Linked DNA regions of Homo sapiens. The protein of the gene in region 1 purifies or fractionates together with the protein of each later gene. This does not show direct contact. Each region holds a gene or a part of one and is shown on either strand. Other genes may lie near its edges.

Region 1 (7,023 bases):
TTCTACTTACTGGCAAAATTGATATACTTTAGAGGACTAAATTAAATGAGCTGTGACAGACAGAAGGACTAAACTGAAAGAGTGGGATATACCCAGACAAAAACCTAGCCCAATAGGCCAAGGACTGTTAGAGGACCTTTAGAAGCAAGCTGAACTCGGTTGCTTTCAATAAACCAATACCTATGTATTAAATATGCATTATGGACAGGAATCACAGGAGAGAAAAGGATGAGATACAATCAAATCCTTTTTATGGGCAAAGACATTTGTCCCCATCATGTGTGTTCTGGAATTTGGGGGTGTGTATTTGGCTCTACCAGATGTTCCTCTAGCGAGTTTCTTAATCTCTCTGACCCTTGGTTTCTTAATCTGTGAAACGGGGATAATAAACCCCATCTCATAGAGTTTTAGTGGGGACTGAATTAAAAGATACAATATAGGGAGCTTGCCTCTCATTAGGTATCAATAAATGTTACTTCCTTTCCTATCATATACTGTCAAGAAAACTATATCTAATAAGTAATAAATGTTGCATTTTACCTGGAAAGGGTCTGTCTTCATCACCCCCATGCAGAGGAACTCCCTTATTTTCTGACATGTACTTCTTGGCAATGGGCAAGGACATCAGCCTAATGTGATGGATGAGTGAGCGCCAGGTGTGAGCTCCAGAAAGCACTGGCTCAGGTGCTAATGGGCTGAAAGGTTGAATCACAAAGTAGGCAGTGAGCAAGATTAATCCCAAGGTTGCGAGAACCTACAAGGAAAGATAGAAAAGGCATTAATCCCAGCAAACAAATACCTTAATACCAAGAAAAAAAACAAAACAAAACAGGCTTCTTCTGCTACTTCCAATGTGCCTTAAGAACTAATCCATTTTCATAAACAAGCCACTTAGGTTTACTTCTGGAAGAATTTAGAATTTGAGAACTATAGGGACTGCAAGGCTCACCAAGCTGCTACCATATAATCAGTGTATTTTAAAATTCACCATTTAAAAATACACAGGCTGGGCATGGTGGCTCTCGCCTGTAATCCCAGCACTTTGGGAGGCCGAGGCGGGCAGATCATGAGGTCAGGAGATCGAGACCATCCTGGCTAACACGGTGAAACCCCGTCTCTACTAAAAATACAAAAAAATTAGCCAGGCATGATGGTGGGCGCCTGTAGTCCCAGCTACTTGGGAGGCTGAGGCCGGAGAATGGCGGGAACCCGGGAGGCGGAGCTTGCAGTGAGCCGAGATCGCGCCACTGCACTCCAGCCTGGGCGACAGAGCGAGAGACTCCGTCTCAAAAAAAAAATAAAAATAAATAAATAAAAATAATAATAATAATACACAAAGGGGGCCGGGCGCAGTGGCTCACGCCTGTAATCCCAGCACTTTGGGAGGCCGAGGCAGGTGGATCACGAGGTCAGGAGATCGAGACCATCCTGGCCAACACGGCGAAACCCTGTCTCTACTAAAAATACAAAAAATTAGCCGGATGTGGTGATGGGCGCCTGTAGTCTCAGCTACTCAGGAGGCTGAGGCAGGAGAATGGTGTGAACCTGGGAGATGGAGCTTGCAGTGAGCCAAGATCGCACCACTGCACTCTAGCCTGGGCAACAGAGTGAGACTGCATCTCAAAAAAAAAAAAAAAAAAAAAAAAAAAAAAATAATAATAATAATAATAATAATAATAATAATACACAAAGGGGCCGGGCGCAGTGGCTCACACCTGTAATTCCAGCACTTTGGGAGGCCAAGGCGGGTGTATCACCTTAGGTCAAGAGTTCGAGACCAGCTTGGCCAACATGGTGAAACCCCACCTCTACCAAAAATACAAGTATTAGGCCAGGCACAGTGGCTCATGCCTGTAATCCCAGCACTTTGGGAGGCTGAGGTGAGTGGATCACCTGAGGTCAGGAGTTCGAGACCAGCTGACCAACATAGTGAAACTCCCATCTCTACTAAAAATACAAAATTAGCCGGGCATGGTTGCGCATGCCTGTAATCCCAGCTACTTGGGAGGCTGAGGCAGGAGAATTGCTTGAACCTGGGAGGCGGAGGTTGCACTGAGCCAAGATCACACCATTGCACTCCAGCCTGGGCAACAAGAGTGAAACTCTGTCTCAAAAAATAAATAAATACATACATAAAGGCTGGCTGCAGTGGCTCACACCTGTAACCCCAGCACTTTGGGAGACTGAGGTGGGCAGTCTCGAACTCAGTCTGACAGTGATTGACTGGACTCAAGTCACTTGAGCCCAGGAGTTCGAGACCAGCCTGGACAACACGGAAAAACCCCCATCTCTACAAAAAATAGAAAAATTAGCCAGGTGTGGTGGCACATGCCTGTGGTCCTAGGTACTTGGGAGGCTGAGATGGGAGGATCACCTGAGTCTGGGAGTTCGAGGCTGCAGTGAGCCATGATGGCACCACTGCACTCCAGCCTGGGCAACACAGTGTGACCTTGACTAGAAAAATAAAAAATCTGTTCAGGTGCGATGACTTAGGCCTGTAATCCCAGCACTTTGGGAAGCCGAGGAGGGCAGATCACCTGAGGTCAGGAGTTCAGGACCAGCCTGACCAACATGGAGAAACCCTGTCTCTACTAAAAATACAAAAATTAGCCAGGTGTGGTGGCACATGGCTGTAATCCCAGCTACTTGGGAGGCTGAGGCAGGAGAATCGTTTGAACCTGGGAGGCGGAGGTTGCAGTGAGCTGAGATCACGCCACTGCACTCCAGCCTGGGCAACAGAGTGTGACTCCATCTCAAAAAAAAAACAACAAAAAAAAACAAAACACAAGGCCAGGCGTGGTGGCTCACGCCTATAATCCAAGCACTTTGGGAGGCTGAGGTGGGCAGATCACCTGAGGTCAGGAGTTCAAGACCAGCCTGACCAACATGGAGAAAACCTGTCTCTACTAAAAATACAAAATTAGCTGGGTGTGGTGGCGCACGCCTGTAATCCCAGCTACCTGGGAGGCTGAGGCAGGAGAATCACTTGAACCCAGGAGGCAGAGGTTGCGGTGAGCCGAGATTGCGCCATTGCACTCCAGCCTAGGCAACAAGAGTGAGACTCCGTCTCAAAACACACACACACAACAAACAAACAAATAATAAAAAATTAAATAATAATATTACACAAATATAATTTAACTGTAAATATGCAGCTTTCATCTAGGACCTTTAACAACACAGTCAAATTTCCTAGTAACACATGGTAACAAGAGCAAAGGCCAATTTATTCACGGAAAAACCAATGCTCAGTGGTGGGATTAGTCAACAATAGCATTTGTGAAGAATGTTGAACAGTTTGTGTTCTGTTGAAGCAATTACCAACTCAGGAAACATTTTACCTTATACACAACTATAAGGAGAGGATACTGCGGGGGGGGTCTCTGAGGTTCATTCTTTTCCAGCAGCTGTCTGATAAATTTTTCAATTGCCTTCTCTGACATGCCACACTGATGGCCGGTCTGTCTCACCAAATCAACAGTCTCTGAAAGTTTGTCATAAATGCTGATCTCGTTGGCAGCAAGATCCATGTCTTCCAATATAAAATCCCTGAGAGAGACGGAGAGAAAATAAATGTAAAAAGAAAGGTGGTTTCTTTAGGTACTTCCTCTTCAAAGCTACTTGACCATCTGTAGAGAAGGACCAGTTTTGTGCTTTCCTCAATCCTCTACAGACCAATACTTTCATGAAACACAATGAATACACAGAGACAATGTCAAATTGCCATACAAGTTTTAAAATATTCGTTAACTGTGGGCCAGGAACAGTTTACAGACCTGCACTAGTTCCCAAACTAGTGCAAACTGAGGAGCACTGGTCTAGAGCACAATATATCCTAATGGGACTCTGAAGCACTAATGACATCCAAAAAAGATTTCTGACACCAATGATGGGAGATCTGCTACTGGAGATTCCTTAAAATAAAAAAAAAATGGATTATGCACAGTGTTGTTTAACGCTGTTGTTGAACATTTGTGTTCAACACAAGAGGAAGAACTGATCACTGAAGATTACTGAAGGTGATTTACTGAGAGCAACAGGCTGATAAGCTTTGTTCTTGGCAGAGCAAAGATTTCAGACAACACAAAAACCATGGCATGTGGCTTGCAGTCCTCACACTTTTCTTTCTTCTTCTTTTTTTTAATTTCTTCTGGAGCAACCAGAGTCCTCATGCTTTTCTACAAATACAATTTTAGAAAATAAAGGGCATTTTATTTGTATTTTATATACTTAAAATACCTAAGATTTTTAACTAATTTAAAAATTCAATTTGTGTTCCTATAGTTATTTTAAAGACAGATTGTTTCATCATGCCCAGAGAACAAAAGGTAAAAACTAATGGGGCAAAGTAGAGTTCTCTCTGTATCATTTGTAAAATGAAATTAAATAGTTCCAAGGCTGGACGCAATAGCTCGTGCCTGTAATCCCAGCACTTCGGGAGGCTGAGGCAGGCGGATCACCTGAGGTCCGGCGTTTAAGACCAGCCTGACCAACACGGAGAAACCCCGCCTCTACTAAAAATACTAAATTAGCCTGGCATGGTGGCGGGTGCCTGTAATCCCAGCTACTCGGGCGGCTGAGGCAGGAGAATCTCTTGAACTCGGGAGGCAGAGGTTGTGGTGAGCCGAGATCACGCCATTGCACTCCAGCCTGGGCAACAAGAGCGAAACTCCATCTCAAAAAAAAAAAAAGAAAAGAAAAGAAAAGAAAAACAAATTTTAAAAATCAGCTTGGCCTGGTGGCACACACCTGTAGTCCCAGCTACCTGGGAAGCTGAGGTGGGAGGACTGCTTGAGCCCAGGAGTTTGAGGCTGCAGTGAGCTATGATCATACCACTGCACTCCAGCCTGGGAGACAGAACGAGATCCCATCTCTAGAGAAATAAAATAAGATAAAATAATTAAATGGCTATTTAAAAAGGTGTTTAAGTTACAGAACAATAATATTTTTCTTCATTTACAGGAGGAAGAAGAGTGCTTCTTCGGGTTTGTGCTCTCTTCTACTGGGCTTTATTTATTTATATATTTATTTTCAATACAGAGGGTCCTTTTATTTTGCATACTTCATTCCTACAGTACTTCTAGCCCCAAAAAGTACTGACATAGTACGTGTATTCTCTCAGTAAGGAGATGCTGCCACCTGTAGGGTGGAGGACATAGTCATGTTGTTACAACACAACCCAGCGCACGCCAGCACACCTCCTCTTCCAGCAGTGTGCCTCCCAATCACTCCTGTTTGGTCCTCTTTACGACTATTAAGTGTTTAGTTCATTAGGTCTTAACCTGGCTTGCACATTAGAATCACCTAGAGAGCGTTTCATAAATGCTCATACCTGGGCATCAACTCAGAGCAATTAAATCAGAATCAGAAGACTTCTAATGGTGGATTAAAAGGCATGCAATCTAGACTTCCAGGAACTGGGGGAATGAGAGAAGAGCCCACCACACTATACCCCCCACATTCAGATAAAAAGACAGTACAAACTACAGTTGAGACTTGAACAACATGGGTTTGAACTATGTGGATACACTTAAAAGCTGATTTTTTTCTACCAACCCAGGATTGAAAATACAGTATTTTCAGGGTGCAAAAACTGCATATACATATACAGAGGGATGATTTTTTGTATAAACAGGTTCTGAAGAATCAACTGTGAAACTTGAATATGCAAGGATTTGGGTGTATATGGAGATTCTGGAACGAATACCCTACATATACCAAGGGACAGCTATATAATTTTTAATGTATTATTTTCAATACATGATGCTAGGACCACTGGATATCCACAAATGAGAAAATGAAGTTGGACCTTTCTTTCTTTTCTTTTTTTTTTTTTTTTTTTTTTGAGACAGAGTCTTGCTCTGGTTGCCCAGGCTGGAGTGCAGTGGCGCGATCTTGGCTCACTGCCACTTCCGCCTCCCGAGTTCAAGCGATTCTCCTGCCTCAGCCTCCCAAGTAGCGGGATTACAGGTACCCACCACCACGCCCAGCAAATTTTTTTGGATTTTTAGTAGAGACGGGGTTTCACCATGTTGGCCAGGCTGGTCTCGAACTCCTGACCTCAGGCAATTCGCCTGCCTCAGCCTCCCAAAGTGCTGGGATTACAGGTGTGAGCCACCATGCCTGTCCCTTTCTTTATACTATACACAAAAATTAACTCAAAATGGATCAAATACCTAAATTTATAAGCTAAAATGATAAAACTTCGAAGAAAACACAGAGAGGGAGGCTTCATGATTCTGGGATTCGGCAATGGTTTCTTAGATATGATACCAAAAGAACAAGTAGCAAAAGAAAAAATAAATTGGACTTCATCAAAATTAAAAACTTTTTGTAGAAGACAAGAGGAGGGGAAAAACCTCAAAAATTCTGTGTCTCAATACCATCAAGAAAGTAAAATGACAAGCCACAGAATGGGAGAAAATTTTTGCAAATTATATATCTGATAAGGGGGTGGTCTATATAGAATACATCAAGAATTATTACAAATCAGTAATAAAAAGACAACCAAATAAAAAAATAGACAAAGGATTTGAATAGCCATTTCTCCAGAAAAGATATACAAATGGACTGGGTGCAGTGGCTCACGTCTGTAATCCCAGCGCTTTGGAAGGCCAAGGTGGCAGATCACTTGAGGTCAGGAGTTCGAGATCAGCCTGGTCAACATGGTGAAACCCTGTCTCTACTAAAAATACAAAAATTAGCCGGGTGTGGTGGCAGGCACCTGTAATCCCAGCTATCTGGGAGGCTGAGGCAGAAGAATCACTTGAATCTGGGAGGCAGAGGTTGCAATGAGCCAAGATTACACCACTGCACTCCAGCCTGGGTGACAGAGTGAGACTCCATCTCAAAAAAAGATATACAAAGGACCAATAAACACACAAAAAGATACTCAACATTATTAACCATCAGAGAAATGCAGATCAAAATCACAGTGAGATATCATTTCACATCCACTGGGATAGCTACAATCAAGAAGTCAGACAAAAAGTGTTGGTAAGGACATGGAGGAATTGAAACATA
Region 2 (7,531 bases), on another chromosome or scaffold:
TGGAATGGGTGGCCTGCGTATTCAAACACATCAAAGCAGCAGTTACTTGAACAATCGGAACTTCTTCAAATACTGGCCCACTTCTTCCTTGGGGTAGGGCCGGAGAGCAATACAAGTGGCGATATTCTCTGGTTGCTCAAGCCACAGCATGTGGTCAATGTTCTTCTGTTGCAGGGTCTCGGCCAGCTCCTTTAGGGTGGTCTCATCTGGGGCCTAAAGGAGAAGAACACAGAACACAAACTGAATAGCCCACTTAGGAAGTGTCAAAAGGCCAAAAAAGGTTTCGGGAGTCCTCTTGCCTGAAAGTGGAGTAACAGCTTTACCAAGGAGGGAGCTGCAGAGCAATGATGTCATTCCGTGGTGCACTGGGGAGGGGAGAGAGGCTTCATATTCCAGTTTAGAAAATGGAGATTTGTATCTTCCCTTGTGAGATGTTGTATGCCCAACACACACATGTGTAATGTGTAATTCTGCTCTATACATTTTCCAGCTCTCCTATGGCTGGCGCCCATAATTTTAAGTGCCTCTGACTTTAAGAGCTGCCTAGTGGAAGTTTTTTTTTTTTTTTCTTTTGAGACAGAGTCTTGCTCTGTCGCCTGGGCTAGAGTGCAGTGGCACGATTATCAGCTCACTGCAGTCTCTGGCTCCCGAGTTCAAGCAATTCTCCTGCCTCAGCCTCCCGAGTAGCTGGGATTACAGGCGCACACCACTACACCTGGCTAATTTTTGTATTTTTAGTAGAGACGGGGTTTCACCATGTTGCCCAGGCTGGTCTGGAGCTCCTGACCTCAAGCAATCCACCCACCTAAGCCTCCCAAAGTGCTAGGATTACAGGAGTGAGCCACCATGCCCGGCCCCTAGTGGAAGGATTTCTAAAAGCACATCCACTTCCACTTTCCTCCACCCCTCCCACTCTACCTCACTGAAACCTAGAGGGGTTTTCCTTCTGCTGGGATGGCTCCCACTTGTTTATTAAAGGGAGAGTACAATATTCTCTAACATCCTTCTGAAATTGTTTCTGGGTCATCCTTACTGCCAATTCACCCATGCTGAATCCCATTCCAGGAAGTATTAAAACGATCACTCAGAAAATTATTATTTTTGTGTTATTTTGCATAAAGTTTATCTCTTACCTATGAAGGCAGAAGCCACTAAGCTACTCAGAGGCTTGTTTTAATAAATTAGAGAATGCCAGTATTGCGACTCTTAACCTGCTGAGTCCTTCTGGCAGAGCTCTGCTGGAGGACTCATCAGCTTCTTCAGCCTCGGGCAGCAGCAGAGCATAGTGAGATACAGTGAGGCTCTGGAATCAGACTACTGGACTCCAAACTCTTGCTGACTGTGTGATCGTGGATAAGTTAGGTGACTTCGCTGGCCTCTTCGTCCCTTTATAAAACAGGAATAATGCTTCCTAATGGGGATCAATGAAATCAGGCTTGGACCTGTGCCTGGCACACACTAAGCACTCAATAAATGTAGTTAATCCTGGTATTTTCTTATATTTTATTGGCCCTTCTGACTACAGCGGCACCTCAATGTAATCAGTAGCGACTCCTAAGTCCCTTTCTTGAGTCATGACTAACAACTAAGAATCATGAGACCCTCTTTTAAACTCAGGGGAGTCACTTAATCCCTGTAGGCTTCAGAGAGTTTCACCTGCGACAAGAGGAGTCTAACCTGATTTCTTGAGACCTCTTACTAGGAAGAAAATCTAAGTGAAAAGCCAGCAGCTTCTGTTCTGCCTACACAGATTCTCAAGGCATTTTTCCTACAGGTTACCGCTTGATGTTTCACTATCCAGCAGCAATTTTTCTCTTGAAAGATAATCTATCTTTGTCAGTTACCCATGAAGGGATTACTCCACCCCTCCACCTGAGTTCTGGCTTAAAGCCGTTTTTCCTTATTATAAAAAGCCGTTTATTATTAAAGCCGTTTTTCCTTATTATAAAATATGTGCTTAAGGTAGAAAATTTTAAAAATACAGATTAAGCATTAGGAAATAACCAAAATCTCACCATGCACTACTTAATATGTAGATGTATTTCTTTAGTTTTTCCTTTCAAAGTCTGGATCATTCTGTATATATAGTTCAGTTAGCTTCGCATCATGAGCACTCTTCCCGACCACTAAATATGCTTCAAAACCATAAGGGCTCCCATGAATATCCTTGTGCAAAGCTCTTTGGGTGCATCTGATTATTTTCTTAGGCTACATCTCTAGCAGCAGGATAGAGAGTCAAAGGGTAAGGGTGAGATTTGTTTGGTCATCTGCAAACAGAACCTGACTGCTATTTTAAAAGGTGTACCGATTTACACACCTGGTGCCTGGTCTAGCTGAAGCTAGGTTCAATTTATACTAACGTTTTTAGTATTTATTTTCAAATAATTTGGCGTCCTACCCAGGTAAATACTCAGTTTGACTTCACTTTGCACTGTCCCTTCGGGCTCGGTTTTGCAGGAGGACAGCACTTTGGGGCATGGCTTTAAAAAGTCGGCCAGTGCACAGGCGGAACAGCGGGGACACAGGAGCCACCACTTTACCGCGAGCCCAGCAGGGGGCGGAGGACTGCTGTCCACTCTTCACACAGTCAGGCCCTTCCCAAGGGCGCACCTCCAGGGAAACAGCTCCAGTCTAAATGTTAACGATCACCCCAACTCCCGCCGCACCCACTCCCCGCAGCCAGGCCTTCGGACCGAAGACCACACCCACTTCCGCCCTCGATGTCTCAGCACCTCCCCCTCCGCCCGAGTGCCTCACCTCGAGGACCACTTTGCGCATGCGCCCCAGCTCTTGGAGGTAAGCGGCTGTGTGCGGGTGGTCGCGGTGAGTGTGCAAGGCCGCGGTGGCCGCGTGACAAGCCTGCGCTACCAGTGCGCCCGCCGGCCAGGAGAACGGAGCTTGTGATAGATCCTTTCGTAACACCAAGTATTGTACCAGGACCTGCGGCTCCGCCCCAGAGGCCGCCATCTTCCTGACCACCCGAAAGGCCGGACCTACTCCCCGGTGCATCTTGGGATCAGGGCGGGGCCCTGAGCGCCGCCATGCTTTTGTACGGCAGGATCGCAAAGCACGCCGGGACCGGTTGGTTTGGTTTTGAAGACGTGGATGGCGGGAATTCTCGCTTCTGGCCTGGGTGAGCTAGAAGGGAGAAGGTAGGGGAAAGACCCATTGTCGGACCGGACCGTGGCCAGGGTGGCGGGCTGAACGGCCTTCTTAAAACTCCTTCCGTGGCCGGGAAGCCCGCTGGACCAGAGTAGCCGTGGCCTCGGGAGCGCGCCGGGGCCGCGGGATGGGCGCGGGGGTGGGCATGGACTCTGCTGGCTCGGACGATGGGAGAGGGCGGGCGGCTCAGGAAAGGGGATCCTAGCCGTGACATTTGTGTCATCCGCGGCCCAGGGGTTGTGCCTGAGTGGTGTGTGCCCTGCCGTCTGGGTTTGAATGGGACTAGATGTGATGTGACTGTTGCCATTTTTCTTTTATTAGCAAGGACATTGGAGTCCCTATCACCGGTTGCCTAGACAACTTCATGGGAAGGCCCTTGGGAATCTGAGATGGAGCAGGCGAACCCTTTACGTCCAGATGGCGAGTCCAAAGGAGGTATTCAGAGGGTCGCCGCCTCCTTCCTGCTGCTGCCCAAAGATGACCCGCAGGCTGAGAGAGCCCTTTCCTCCTGGAACTGACGTGGGACCTGGCCTGTTTGGGAGCAGAATAGTGAAAGGAACTAACATTGAAGACAAAGGGACAGGCAGCCAAGATTATTCGAGGAGGAAAAATGGCTTCGTTTCTAGGCTCCCACCCCTTTTGAAACGGATAAGTTGCATCCATCATATGCTCAGTGTTTATATTCTGAACTGCGGTTCTAGCCAGGGAGGTCCCTTTCCTCTCCCCGGATTTTTTGGGCCATGTATGCATTACTCTTGAGGGAGGGCCAGTGTAGGGCAGTGACTTTAGTGTTGGCTAGAACTGGTTTTGAGTGTTGGCTCTGCCATGATAAATATTGTGACCTTAGGCAAGTCACTTTATTCTCTGCCTCTGTTTCTTCATCTGGAAAATGGAGGTGAAAATAGCACTGTAGTTGTGGTTGTGGAAAAAGTATTTCTTTTGTGGTGGAAAAGTATTGAACTCAGACTTTTCAAGTGAAGCATTTAGCACATGTCTAATATATAGGAAATATTCAATGAAAGGCTTAATTCTTTACATACTTTGTGTCTTAAAATGTAGAAGGTGTTTAAAGAATGCTTGTTAGAGTTGCTTAGAATTACGAAACTATTACTTTTACTTAGTCCTTAGTCAATCCTTTGGAAACTGAGATTTGCGTTTGAATTTCTGTCCAGGAGTAAGTTGCTTTCTTCTTTAGTGCCTAGTAATATTTGTGGACAGTTCTGGTTTTGTGTGACTTTATGTTCTTTGCTACTAATACTTTTTAGAACTTTGAAATACTTACTCAAGCCTGATGCCTAAATCCAAAGGGTTCTACGTTAGTACTTTGGGAAAGCTTGCCATAAAACCTAACTTAAATTACAGTTTTAAAAAGAATTTCTGAGCGCGTCAGTGAATTTGGTTATCCTATTTTTCTCTGGGTCATCATTATCATTGATAACAGAGAAGTAACTATATTCAGCCTAAGATGACTTAAGCTGAGACTTTAGATAATAAAAGTATATGGGGTAAGATTTATTGTTACTTTAAGACTAAAAATAAGTTTGGTGACTTTATGTAGTGGAAACATGCTACACTCAGGAGTAACCTGTTCTCTAGTCCAGGCCTTATTTCATTTCTGTTAAAGTAAGTGATGAGGTGGAAGTTTTGGATTATCAAGAGACTTAGACCAGTCTCCTTATTCTCTACCCAAAACAATATTTAAACACTTAGCTGTTACCCATACTGGTTTTATCCCTCTGCTTGTTTGATTTCAGTTTTTTGCTTATTATTTGAATTCTCCCCACTCATTTGAGAAGGAAGGACATGGAGTTGTAGTTGCAACCAGATGATTTATTCAAATAGGCAGGGATTTTGACTTTTTTTGGGACAAAGCTGACTGGCTAGGATGAGATGCAATCATAACTTCCAAGGTAAAGCAGGCCCAGCAGATACACTCCCTCTTTTCTGTAGTAGCAACGCTAAACAACAACGCTACCCCCTTGGTGTAGAGGGAATCAGGTCGGTAAAGAAGCTGGGCAGGTTTGAGAGCCTGAGAAGAGGGCTGTGTGGAAGTGCCTAGAGAAGGAGCAGCATGATACTGTTTTGAACACCTACTTATCTCAGAAACTTTGGGAATATTGATATCTACTGTTTTAGTAATATAGAATTTCCATAAAGTAGAATTTGGTGAGGCGTCTCCTCTACCACCCTAAATTATTCTATGTGTGCGTGCTTTTCAGATCACCTCCTGGTTGGACATTAATTTTTGTAAGCTCCGTGAGGACAGGGACTTCGTTTTGCCACCACAGTATGAATAACTTCCAGCACGGTCCTTGGTCCATAGTAAATTCTCAATGCATAGTTGTTGGATAAATAGAGATTGGTGAATAAAGCAGTTAATCACGTGCTAATTATTAGGACTAATTTATTTAATTAGAATTTTGGTTTCTCACGATTATTATTGCGGTAATGTGGGTTTTTCTGTGGACATGAGCCAAGTGAATGTAATCTCCAAGAGTGTCATGCCTGGTTGTCCGTGTTTCGGTAAACATTTCCGGAGTGTTGGCCGGGCGCGGTGGCTCACACCTGTAATCCCAGCACTTTGGGAGGCCAAAGCGGGTGGATCACAAGGTCAGGAGTTCAAGACCAGTCTGGCTAACATAGTGAAACCCCATCTCTACTAAAAATACAAAAATTAGCCGGGCATCGTGGTGCATGCCTGTAGTCCCAGCTAATTGGGAGGCTGAAGCAGGAGAATTGCTTGAACCTGGGAGGTAGAGGTTGCAGTGAGCTGAGATCGCGCCACTGCACTCCAGCTTGGGCAACAGAGTGAGATTTCGTCTCAGAAAAAAATAACCATTTCCGGAGTGTTTACCATGTGTAAACACTTTGTGCTAGGGTTAAGGGATCCATGGGTGAACACAAATGCACACGGTCCCTGATTTTGGAACTTTAAGGTTCAGTGGAAAAGATAAGCAAATCAAATAATCACACTAATGAATATACAATTAAAACTATAGTGGCCGGGTGCGGTGGCTCACGCCTGTAATCCTAGCACTTTGGGAAGCCGAGGTGGGAGGATCGCTTGAGCTTAGGAGTTTGAGACCAGCCTGGGAAACATAGTGAGACCCCATCTCTTTATTTAAAAAACAAAAACAAAAAAACTATAGTATTGTCTCAGAAGGATCTTTGAGAGCTTATGAGCTGGCACCTGACCTTGTTCTGAAGGTGCTACAAAGGTTTCCCTGAGGAAATGCTGCTTGCATTGAGTGCTAACGAGCTAGAGTAGCTGCAGGTGAAGGTGGATAAGGGGCGGCTGTGGAAGAGCCTTTGGTGTGTGTGTTGGGGGTGGGGGGATCAGGTCAGTAAAGACGCTGGGCGGGTTTGAGAGCCTGAGAGGAGGCCTGTGTGGAAATGCCTAGAGAAGGAGCAGCATGATACTGATGAGGGTAAGAGAGATCCAGAGGCCAGTAGGCCTCGTAGGCAGTGTGAAGTCATCGAAAGGCTTTAGCCAGCTGGATGACACGATCCAGTTTAGATTTTGAAATATGGCTTCAGTGTATGGGCCACCTAGGAAACTTGTAATAGGCCAGAAATGGTAGTAGCTTGAACTACAATGGTGGCATTGCAGATGGGGAAAATGGAAATATTTTAGAGATACTAGGAATGTATATTCAATAGGATCTGGTAATGGATTGGGACTGGGTCAGGGAGAAGGTGTGAGGAAGAAAGTACTGGTTTACACAGCTATAGATGGATAATGGTTCCAGTCATGGAGGGGTTTAGAAGGGGAGATGATGAATTCAGTCTTGGACATGTTGATTGTCAGGTTCCTGTAAGTCTTCCAAGTAGATACACTGAGAAGGCAGGTGGATATTCTGCTTTCTCAAGAAGCAGGAGAGAGGTATAAGCTAGAGATACATATTTGTGTGGCATCGACATGTATGGCCATTAAGGCTGTGGGTACTGATGAGATTTCTTCTGGAAAGAAGAGGTCTTAGGACTGAGCTCTGGAAAATTTCAGCATTTAATGGTCAAGGAGGAGAGTAGGAGCCTTCAAAGCAGAAAGTGGGGTCAGAGAGGTAAAATGTAAGTGTCACAAAAACAGGTTGTCTGTTGTTCATCACTATGTTCCCAGTGCCTGAAATAGTACTTGGCACAAAATAGATGCTTAATAAACATCTGTTGAACAAGGCATACCAACAGGCCGCTATGCTAAGATTCAGAGGAAAAGAGGGTTTCGTGAAGGTGGTGATCAGTAGGAGCATATAGTGCTGGGAGGTGAGATAAGGGAGCTTGAAAAATGTCCTTTGGGTTCAGCAACATGGATATCACTGTTGATCTTAGAGTGGTTTTGTAAAATAATGGGAACAGAAGTGAGTTTCAAGTG

The links.
Region 2: the proteins of C6orf89 (region 1) and PTRHD1 purify together in Homo sapiens (affinity purification with mass spectrometry; 3 studies listed by BioGRID and IntAct, with this or other methods). This does not show direct contact.

What each region holds. Positions count from the first base shown.
Region 1 is NC_000006.12:36,895,952-36,902,974, reverse strand, and holds part of C6orf89 (bombesin receptor-activated protein C6orf89), read right to left. Parts: intron 4,869-7,023; exon of another isoform or gene 4,750-4,868; intron 3,550-4,749; coding exon of another isoform or gene 3,531-3,549; coding exon 3,342-3,530; intron 755-3,341; coding exon 541-754; intron 1-540. UniProt on the Homo sapiens protein: Exhibits histone deacetylase (HDAC) enhancer properties. May play a role in cell cycle progression and wound repair of bronchial epithelial cells.
Region 2 is NC_000002.12:24,790,369-24,797,899, forward strand, and holds the start of PTRHD1 (putative peptidyl-tRNA hydrolase PTRHD1), read right to left. Parts: upstream 3,024-7,531; 5' UTR 3,010-3,023; coding exon 2,758-3,009; intron 2,708-2,757; exon of another isoform or gene 2,318-2,707; intron 2,217-2,317; exon of another isoform or gene 2,016-2,216; intron 1,412-2,015; exon of another isoform or gene 224-1,411; intron 214-223; coding exon 43-213; 3' UTR 1-42. Other genes in the region: CENPO (centromere protein O), read left to right, coding at 3,552-3,597. UniProt on the Homo sapiens protein: As a putative peptidyl-tRNA hydrolase, it might be involved in releasing tRNAs from the ribosome during protein synthesis. Some evidence, however, suggests that it lacks peptidyl-tRNA hydrolase activity.